Homo sapiens: one gene and its partners. The protein of the gene in region 3 purifies or fractionates together with the protein of the main gene of each other region. This does not show direct contact. Each region holds a gene or a part of one and is shown on either strand. Other genes may lie near its edges. The genes, in order: SMARCA1, SHPRH and MYBL2.

What was found.
Region 1: the proteins of MYBL2 (region 3) and SMARCA1 purify together in Homo sapiens (affinity purification with mass spectrometry, with the first as the bait; one large-scale study listed by BioGRID). This does not show direct contact.
Region 2: the proteins of MYBL2 (region 3) and SHPRH purify together in Homo sapiens (affinity purification with mass spectrometry, with the first as the bait; one large-scale study listed by BioGRID). This does not show direct contact.

What each region holds. Positions count from the first base shown.
Region 1 is NC_000023.11:129,467,937-129,471,591, forward strand, and holds part of SMARCA1 (SWI/SNF-related matrix-associated actin-dependent regulator of chromatin subfamily A member 1), read right to left. Parts: intron 3,391-3,655; coding exon 3,268-3,390; intron 970-3,267; coding exon 837-969; intron 1-836.
Region 2 is NC_000006.12:145,919,350-145,923,004, reverse strand, and holds part of SHPRH (E3 ubiquitin-protein ligase SHPRH), read left to right. Parts: intron 1-168; coding exon 169-342; intron 343-656; coding exon 657-719; intron 720-1,612; coding exon 1,613-1,838; intron 1,839-3,513; coding exon 3,514-3,655. UniProt on the Homo sapiens protein: E3 ubiquitin-protein ligase involved in DNA repair.
Region 3 is NC_000020.11:43,698,094-43,701,748, reverse strand, and holds part of MYBL2 (myb-related protein B), read right to left. Parts: intron 1,993-3,655; coding exon 1,705-1,992; intron 1-1,704. UniProt on the Homo sapiens protein: Transcription factor involved in the regulation of cell survival, proliferation, and differentiation. Transactivates the expression of the CLU gene.

The DNA of each region.
Region 1 (3,655 bases), on a different chromosome or scaffold from region 3:
AGTTTAAGAGCTGAACCTATTTGGAAGTTAGAAAAGTCCCATGTACTACATATAGAAAACTTGCTAGACATATTTACCTATTTTTAATAAGATTTCTGGATAGCTAAACACGAAGAGGTTTCGCCCAGGGAGGGCACCAAAGCGCTGCGCCCTCTTGGCCCATACTTTGCCCTACACGCTTCATCTGTATCCTTTACAATACCCTTTATAATAAACCAGTAAGTGTAAAAAAAATCCATATGCTTCAGCAGCTAAACTGATTCTGGTCGAGCTCAACAACACAGGTGAGTAAGAGAGGGAGAGGATTTGAGGACCAGTTAACAGATTGATTAAAGCAATCTTTTCAGCTCTACGCCCGCTAGCCCCAAGTTAATGGGACCCACAGGAACTCTCTGGAATAGGGTGGAACTCTGAGGGTGTTTGAGCATCTAAATGGGCCTGACAGGAACTCTCTACTTTAAGGACGACCTAGAAAGAAAGGCACGAATTCAATCCACTGAATGTGAATCTCAGAACTGAACCAGAAGACCAAATTCCAGAGGTGGGAAGGTGGGAAACTAATTTTGTCAATGCTTATCCAAGAGCCACCCTTGTTTTATCAGAGCTTTATTTGCCTCTTTTAGCTAGGTGATAGAGACAATAGCAGTCAGTTTGTTAGGATAAATCTTATAACCTTTCTTATAACCTTTTCATAGAAATACAATTATAGTTTATACTCTCATCTATGTCTTATTCATAAAAGTTTAAAACATCTCTGAACAAAGGTACAATTAAATTGATGCTAAATAAATGAATAACGTTAAAATACAACACCATGTTTCAAATTATATACAAACCTGAATACTCCATGACCTCCTCAGGGGATTTGCCCTCTACCTCTCGAGCTATGTTATCAATGTCATCTCTTCCATATTTCTCATTAGCTTTAATAAACTGGTTAAAATCTCGTTTAGTCCAGTTTGTGAAACCCTGTGAACAAAAAGTTAAGCATTATCAATAGAGGTTAAATTAATAAATCCATTTATTGCCCTATTTACTTCTATACAATGATACATTAAAAAACACTTTAAAAGACTTAAAATGTTTCTCCTTATAAAATTGCACATATTTTATGTTGGAATCAAAAGTTGAGTGAGAGTTGTTATAGAAATAACTGCTTTTCTATTACAAAGAGAATGTTGATACATAGTTCGAAGATCTGTAGTTTTTAATTTCATATTTTATAGATGCCTACATTAAAATACAAATGCATGAAAATAAAAATGCTAATATAAATGCTGAAGTCGTGATATTCTAGTACTTCAATGATTTTTTTCACAGATCTGTTCCTACATAAATTAAAAGAGAGAAATGTGGATGCACTAAATCAAAAGAACACTGAGGAATAACCAAAAGATAATGCAAAAAAAAATTGTAGCTCTTTACATCATTCTGAACTAGTGTGAATAAATAATTTCTGTTCTAAATTATGTTCATAAATAGAACTTCTACAAGCAGAACGTTATTGGAGCCACTCAATTTCTTTACTAAAACATAAAACACTTTAGCCAGTGTTTTAAATTCCCTTGGCATTATTAGCATGTCTGTGAAGTCACAAGACCAAGAATTTGTCTTCCACTCCTCGAGCCCCAACTCACATAAATGTGATACTCCAGACACTGCAAAACTCTATCCCTGGCTTTTAGTTGATAAAGATTTCAGATGACCCCACATTTTGTTCCTACGTACTGCCATGGTTTTTTGAAAAAGATTAATTATTTAAGGCAGCAGAGAAGGACAAAAATGAATTCATATACTAGGAGAAGCAGAAAACTGATTATATTTCTAATTACAAACTAAAATATTATCTCAGTTGAGACTGTATATTCATGTTATACCGTACATTCACAATATACTCCAAGTCATGTAGCATTCTAAAGCCATAACTTTACTTTTACATTCAGGAAATACATTTTGAAAATAGAACATGAATATTTAAATGTTTTATTTTATTCTGTGGTAAGTTCTAATATTCAGCCATCTGCCATTATATTTTCAAACTAAACTTTATTACTTCCAGGCATTTGGCTCAAAAACTTATGAATGTAATTTGTGAAAATCCATACAATAAAATTACGTTATAGCAAAAAAAACCTATATAATAAATAATATACAAATATAAAAACTATCTTTCAATAATTAACGTGGAGAATTACCTACTACTATGCATCGCACATTGTTCAAAATTTGTTGAATAAATAAATCTTGCTGGCAACCCTCTATACTAAAGTAATGTCCTACGGTACACATTTTGTTTATTTTGCAAGCCTTCTATGCTGAAATTTTTATCTTCTATAGTTTATTTTAGAAGTAGAACACTCGTAAAACTCATGATAGCAATAATGACTTAAAAGCATTAATATTTTGTTCAAATGGAAACCTTCCTAATTTAATAATTGTTATACAATGATCACCTTAAATAATAATAATAATAATAAAAGCTTCAGAAATCTCTCATCATTGTATGAAAATTATAAAAAAAGATAAAAAGAATTTTGAAAATTATGAAATTATTCCATTAATAAAAAATTAGTAGAATATAACTTCAGGAGACAATTCACATCTATAAACAAAAGAAATTTAAATTTTCAAGAATATGTTAATAACAGGCTTGGCACGGTGACTCACACCTGTAGTATCAGTTGCACTTTGGGAGGCCGAGGTGGGTGGATCACTTGAGGTCAGGAGTTTGAGACCAGCCTGGCCAACATGGCAAAACCCCATCTCTACTAAAAACACAAAAATTAGCCAGGCACGGTGGTGGGTGCCTGTAATCCCAGCTACTCGGGAGGCTTGGGCAGGAGAATCACTTGAACCTGGGAGGTGGAGGATACAGTGAGCTCAGATCGCACCACTGCACTCCGGCCTGGGTGACAGAGCGAGACTGTCTCAAAAAACAAAAAAGAATATGTTAATAACTACTGTCTATCAGAATTCAAATGTGGATTCACTGACCTTATTATAATTGGCAAAATGTATGTCAAATTGCTAATACTTGACACTTATATTTTGCATATACATACTATCCACTATTTCCAAAAGGGCATATTCTATAAGATCAATTTTTAAAAATAAGGAGATTTGGTCTAAACATGTTTACAAAATAGCCCTGAGTTTTGTTGGTGTGTCACACTAGGATACTAGGCCCATACAATAAAAAGTGTGATCTATATTTTCTTTTTTTCTATTGATTGACTGTAAGTATTACAGCCATTGAAAATATTTTACTTGTGTGAGAAGTTTTTCCTTTTCTTCAGTCTCTTCTGGTGTAAGAGGTTCAGCTCCATCAATCTTTTTTTGCTCTTCTCTTTGAGCCAGAGCTGGATTTGGGATATCAGGATTCCTTGGAACCTATAAATCAAGAGATAAACTAAGAGTAAACTGATGAGAAAAATTAATTACTAAGGCTGTATATACACATATCAATCTTTAGAGTTATTTCAAGAGTAAACAATATAAAATCATAGCCAGAATGACACACGGTCCTCTCCACATTTCTGCTACCATGATCCTATTGAAGTAAAAACCATTCTTGTGCCACATGATATTCCATAGTTAAAACTCACTGGCAAATGCCACATTAGATTTCAGATATGATTATACCCTGGAACAAAGT
Region 2 (3,655 bases), on a different chromosome or scaffold from region 3:
ACTTTGAATACATTCTGAAGGAAAACTCACTCAAATGTTGCTGTTAAAAAAAAAAAAAACAGCAAACAGTTTCTTTAACACTTTGTTTGGCAACCATTCTCTGAATTTGAGGAAATTGACCTATTATTCTTTTCTTTGTATTGTGTGTGGTGCTGGTGTGGGAATCAGGTTCCGTGATTGCAGAGGTCTTCAGTTCTTACTTACAACACAAATGGAAGAGCTAAATAAATGCCAGAAGCTAGTAAGAGAGGCTGTAAAAAACCTGGAGGGACCTCCATCTCGTAATGTTATTGAGTCTGCAACAGTCTGTCACCTCCGACCAGCCAGACTTCCTCTCAACTGGTAGGTAATAGAAGAAATCATACAATGAAATGGTACCATTTCTTTAAGCTAGATTTCTTAGAGAAGAAACAATTGACTCATATAGTAAAGGTTTTTTCATTTTAATTGAGACAGAAGTAGAAAGAGATGTATTAATCTAATTTAAAGAAAAATAAAGTCTCAAGGACAAGGTATGAAAAACCATGTGATTTGTTTTTTCTAAAATGGCATATCTAGTGGAAAGAAAAATGAAGTCAAAATATTAAGCTTCTCCTTAAAATTACCAGATTGCTGGTTATGTTTGTGAATATTTCTGTTAATCTCTTTTTTTTCAGCTGTGTCTTTTGTAAAGCTGATGAATTGTTCACAGAGTATGAATCAAAGCTATTTTCCAACACGTAAGTTCTCTATTTGATTATTACCCATCAAGAAAATGAAACATTTTGCAAGACTCAGTTATGTGATATAAGACTATGTTTTCCCCCACAGTAACCTTTATTATATTGTTTCTTTAATTAAATTGATTAGTACACCTTTGGTATTTGATTGTTTAATATGCCCAGTTTTACCTATCCAGAAGTTATCCCCTAAATGTTCATAGTGTAGTAATATATAATTAATTGAGATGCAGTTTTGTGGAGTGGTAAAATCCCAGACTCTAGAATCCAGTGGATTTGAATTATACAGATTTTGCTAGCATTTTACTGCTATTCAAGGTAGAACTCATAATGTCCGGCATAACTTCTTCAAGAATAAAGAATGACACAATCAAATATGTTATTACTTTAATGAAACCATAAGTAAACATTGTCACAAACACCTGGATTCTCAGAGGGAAGCTTGTTAGAACAATAAATGTGTCCACTTTCATCCAGGTGTATTACTATTCTATTTTAGGTCAAATCTTTTTCTGTTATTACTGAAGTAAATAATACATTTCTTCATGTTTCTGTCCAAATTCTGTTTATTTATCTCCAACAGATATAACTTCTCTAAAATAGAAATTTTCCTCACATATTTCCTTGCCAAACGTTCACTTCTGCATGTCAAGGAAGAAAACAAGATTTTTGTGTTGTTATGGCAAATGAATCAGTAGCTTTCTGTTTATTACAGTGGATATAATAGAATTTAAAAAAAAAAAAACTGGCCAAATTTATGATGTTTTCAGCTTTTTCAAGGTTGCTTTGGTTTTTCCAAAGACTTGCAAACATGTTCTTTTAGAACTCACATTGAAGGTTGCTTTTCACTCACTGATACCAGTTACTGTTGTTTTGTTCTGGTATGTTTTCAGAGTCAAAGGCCAGACTGCAATATTTGAGGAGATGATAGAAGATGAAGAAGGACTGGTGGATGATCGAGCACCTACCACCACCCGGGGTCTCTGGGCAATAAGTGAGACAGAGCGATCTATGAAAGCAATACTATCATTTGCAAAATCACATAGGTTTGATGTTGAATTTGTTGATGAAGGAAGCACTTCAATGGATCTCTTTGAAGCATGGAAGAAGGAATATAAGGTATAGTATTTTAAAACTTCCTTCCAAAATTAAAAATTCTTCTTTTTTACATCAATTTTAACTGCTACTTTTTTCTCTCTCCAGTTTTTTAAAATCTTCTTTTGAGATTGAGGTGGCATAATTTCTCTTTGCCTGAAATGTAACTGTTGTAATAAAGGATAGCAAATACCATAATACTCAAAGACATTCTATTTATTAAATTACTAAAAGAAAATCATTATTAAACTGGAACTTATATGAAACTTTTTGTTTAGCCGTGAAAGTGTGTTCATTCTATTATTAGCTTGATCTTCCACTGCTATTATATGAAATTAGAGTTTTGTTTTTGTTCTGTGAATAACAAGCAAGCATCAGCTACCTTAAAGATTGGGGAACATAGTAAATACTTCTTATCCTATAAGTTTGGAAACCATTCCAATAAATAAAGCCCGATATGCCCTTTCATATTTGTACTTTAATGATTCCATCATATTATACCTCTGTACTTGAGATTTCACAATTCATTAATTTTCAATTATTGTTTTATTTGGATTAGTTATCCATTGTACTGCTTTACAGGTGACATAGGTAGAGGAAGGAAAGAAGTGTTTTTTTATAATGACATTTTTATTCAATTTCTTTTTTAAAAAGTCTTGCTTTTTAAAGTAGGATAAAAATTTTTATGCAGAGAGATAGTTATTTGTACTATCAGTTCATATGTCATAAATTGGGGAATACATTTATAACATCAAAATCATTGGTTTATAATAATGTTTTTCTCACACATTACTCATGTGAATACAAAGCACGTTAACACAGTTAATTACAGTAAGCCTTGGAAGAAGTGTTACTTATGATGTTCAGTTGCCCCTGTATTCTTCCTTTCGACTCAGTTTGGCCACATACCCTTTGTCCAGAAGAGAGCTTACTGTGCAGTTCTCCCAGGTCTTGGTACATATTTTCTGCATAACTTTGCAGACCTTTTCACAGAAGAGCAATTGAATGAGCTCCTGCTGTACATATCTACCAGATCTACCTCAAAATGTAAAGTCAGTGAAGAGAGCCTGTCAAAAAATGTATACTGATTGATACCATTTCTGTGAATTTCAGAAACATATATAACTGAATTATTAAGAATATGTTTCACATAGTATAAGTTCAATGAAAAGTGTAGCAGGATAAGTACAATTCAGAATAGTGGTTGCCCCATGGTTGGGTACTGAAGGAGGAATATGTGAGGAAAGAGTGATACAGTTGAGAAAGAACACACAGAGCCTTTCCAAGGAATTCATATTATTCTTTCTTCAATTAAATGATGAGTACTTGATTGTATATTTTAGTATTCTTGTTGCCATTTATACATAGTTGAATATGTGAAATATGTTATAATAAAACTATTTTTAAAAAATAAAACAAGAGATTCTGTCAGCCTAAAACTGGACTTTATAAAGATTTTTGGTCTTAGCAAGAAATCTTTATATTCTGTTACTGAGAATCTAAAGAGGCAGTGTCCTATAGAGATTTTTTTCATTCACATTTCATCCTAAAAATGACCCCAGGAACTACTTGTACGTTAGACACATAGCGAAAAAGTGTAAGATCTCATTGAAGACTTTTGCTTAAGGCACATCTTGGTGGTTTTAACCAGTTTTAATTACATGCTTTACCACTGTGTTTGTCTTTTCTATTCCTTCAGTTGCTTCATGAATATTGGATGGCTCTGAGGAATCGTGTGTCTGCTGTTGATGAACTTGCAATGGCTACAGAACGACTAAGAGTGCGTGATCCTAGGGAGCCAAAGCCTAATCCGCCTGTTCTTCATATCATTGAACCACATG
Region 3 (3,655 bases):
GTACCCAGCCTGCAGATATTTTTATAGAACGAAATATAGAGCAGTGAATGGGATGTCACTCATCATTGATGCCTCCTTGGGGCAGCTCACAAAAGTTATTTCCAATCCCCACAATTCTGCTAGGGAAGCATTACTTTCCCTTTCATACCAAGGAAGCTGAGCTAAGGGGATTCGGTCTTCCCAAAGTTACTCACTCAGCTTCTAGAACAAGCCCGTGAGTCACTACAGGTTTTCCCTCCTTTACCCAATAAATCACAACACAAACCAAAAGGCTTCTGGACACAGAGGCTTCCACTTTGGTCTTTGGGTTCTGGCTTCTGAGTGGACCCAGACACTAAAGCCGAGTTCTGGTTCCCTGGGGTAGTTCACTCCTAAGGGTGGAGGCCAGCTGGGGGGCAGGACCGACCTCAGGCCCACACCCCAATTCAGGGAGGACCCAGCACCGACAGTGTCTGGTAGACCAGAAGTACATCCTACAAGGACCACTGAAGTGGACGGAGCAGAGGAGGGAAGATGGGATTTCCACACACGCAGTAACTCCCCCAACAGGCGCTGAAGGTCATTGTGGAAAGAGCCTGAGCTCTGAGCCGGACAGCAAGGTTTAACTCCTGTTCCTGGAGGTCACCGGCTGTGTGAACCTGGCCAAGTCTCCTAACCTCTCTGAGCGTGGGGTGCTCTCACTGTTGATGAGTCCACTACCCACCTCACAGGCTGTTAAAGACCAACTAAGAGCCTACACATTAGGTAGCAAGTGATGGGCCTGGCACGCGGCAAGCACTCCAATGTTAGGTACTGTAATTACTCATTAAGCACTGGCTCCGGCAATCAGTGGGTGCTCAATACAAGCGAGCTGTGCCTGCCAAGCGATAGTAGCAGGAGCATAGCATGGCAGTCAAGACCACCAAGTATACTTGCTGTGCAACCTTGGGTACACTACTTGACCTCTCTGAGCCTCAGTTTCACCTAAAAAACAGAAATGACACACCTCACAGGATACCACGCAGACTGTATGTTAAGCTCAGACCCTGGCAGTTAGATGTTCTAGGATGGGAGACACCTGGGTGGAAAGGCGAACACGGACCCCCATACTGAACTCCCCACCCTAGTGACCAGGCCTCTGGTCTTTCACCTCCCAAAACCCGCTCTACACAGCAGGCCTGGCCGATGCAGCCAGGAGCCGGGGTGTCACACCAAGAAGCCCTCCTCAAAGGACACAACCACACAGCCAACACAGTAACCACAACACGGGCTCAATGGCTGCCCCACCCTGAGTAACCAGAACCCACTCACCACTCCAAGACCAGCACCAAGACTTGGCATTTCCTGGGCTCCTCTTCAGGGAGACCCAACCATGTGTGATGCCACAAATACCACGCTGTCCTGTGCTGTCACCTGCCAGTCAACCTTTAGGACTCAGTTCAGTGCCACCTCCTCTGGGCAGCCTTCCCACCCCGCCCTGTGCCATACATAGAGGTCAGATGCCACCACAAACTCCTGCTGCACACACCGGGAGCTCCCCAAGGATAGGGACTGCATGCTGACAACCCTGGTGTCCCCAGCCCTTGGGTCAGGGCTAGGCATTCAGCATCAAGTCAGTAACTGTTAGCAGGGCGATGGAATGAGCAAAAGGATGTGGGCCTGAGAGAGAAGCACTTCCTGCTGGGGGTGTTCTGTGCTCACTGTGAAGTGTTGTGACCAACATACCGACTCGATCAAGTCCAGGGCTTCAGAGAGGCTAGAACCCACAGCAGGGATGAGGAGGTTAGCTGCCTCCACCACCCACTTGTAAGGCAGGCTCGTTTCTGGTGGGGAGCCTTCCTGGTCCTCACGCTTCGGGAATTCCTCCAAGGGCTCTGGTGTTCGCACTGCGTCCAGATCTGTACCGATGGGCTCCTGTTCCTTCGATGTGGTGGCTGCTGCAAGTTCCTCCTCACTGTTTTCCTCCTCCTTTATGGTAGGAGGGACGGAGGGCCAGTTGGTCAGAAGACTTCCCTGTAAGACACAAGAATACACCATTTGCATTTCGCTGAGATATAGACTATATAGTAGTTTCCAGCTAAACCACACAACCTGAATCTAAGAAGGAAACTGTGATGAACCCAAATAGAGAAACATTCTACAGAATAATTAGCCATACCATATACTTCCAAAATGTCAACATCATGACACTAAGAAAGGCTGACTAAAGGGATAGGACAACTAAATGCAATGTCTGGTCTTAGACTGCATCATGGACAGGGAAAAATGGAATATAAACTGTAGATAAAGATCCTGAATTAGGCTTAAATTCCCTGGATTGAATATAACTTTATTGTGGTTATGTAAGCAAATGGCCTTATTCTTAGGAATCTATGCTACATAACTAACTCTCAAATGGCTCAGATGAAAGAAGTAATACACAGAGGTTGGGTGCAGAGGCTCACGCCTGTAATCCCAACACTTTGGGAGGTCGAGGCTGGTGGATCACCTGAGGTCAAGAGTTCGAGATCAGCCTGGCCAACATGGTGAAACCCTGTCTCTACTAAAAACAAAACAAAACAAAATTAGCCAGGTGTGGTGGCAGGCACCTGTAATCCTAGCTACTCGGGAGGCTGAGGCAGGAGAATTGCTTGAACCTGGGAGGCAGAGGTTGCAGTGAGCTGAGATCGCACCATTGCACTACAGCCTAGGTAACAAGAGCAAAACTCTGTCTCAAAAAAATTAAAAAATAAATTTTTAATGCTTAATAAACATTAAAAAATAAAAAGACCAGGTACAGTGGCTTATGCCTGTAACTCTAGCACTTTGGGAGGCTGAGGCAATTGGGTCCCTTGAGTTCCTGAATTCAAGGTTGCAATGGGCTATGATCACACCACTGCACTCCAGCCTGGGCAACACAACAAGACTCTAATAAAAAAAAAAGGGAGGGGGGAGGGGGCTGGGTGTGGCGGCTCACACCTGTAATCCCAGAACTCTGAAAAGCTCAGGCAAGAGGACCCCTTGAGTTCATGAGTTCAAGGTTGCAGTGAGCTATGATCACGCCACTGCACTACAGTCTGGGGTACAGAGCAAGACCCTGCTCATTTAAAAAAAAAAAAAAAAAAAAAATCACGCCTGTAATCCCAGCACATTGGGAGGCCGAGACGGGCGGATCACAAGGTCAGGAGGATCGAGACCATCCTGGCTAACACGGTGAAACCCCATCTCTACTAAAAATACAAAAAATTAGCCAGGTGTGGTGGCAGGCGCCTGTAGTTCCAGCTACTTGAGAGGCTGAGGCAGGAGAATGGTGTGAACCCGGAAGATGGAGCTTGCAGTGAGCCGAGACTGCGCCACTGCACTCCAGCCTGGGCTACAGAACGAGACTCTGTCTCAAAAAAAAAAAAAAAAAAAAAAAAAAAAAAAAAAAAAAAAAAAATATGCGGGGCGTGGTGGCTCACACCTGTAATCCCAACACTTTGGGAGGCCAAGGCAGACAGATCCCTTGAGCCCAGGAGTTCGAGACCAGCCTGGGCAAACCCCATCTCTATAAAACAAACGAACAAACAAAAAGTGAATTTTATTGTATGTAAATTATACCTTTATAAAATAAAGAAAAAAAGCTACCAAACTGGGAAAAAATAGTTACTACATGATAAAGGAGTAGCATCCTTAATATACAAATAAAATGTACAAA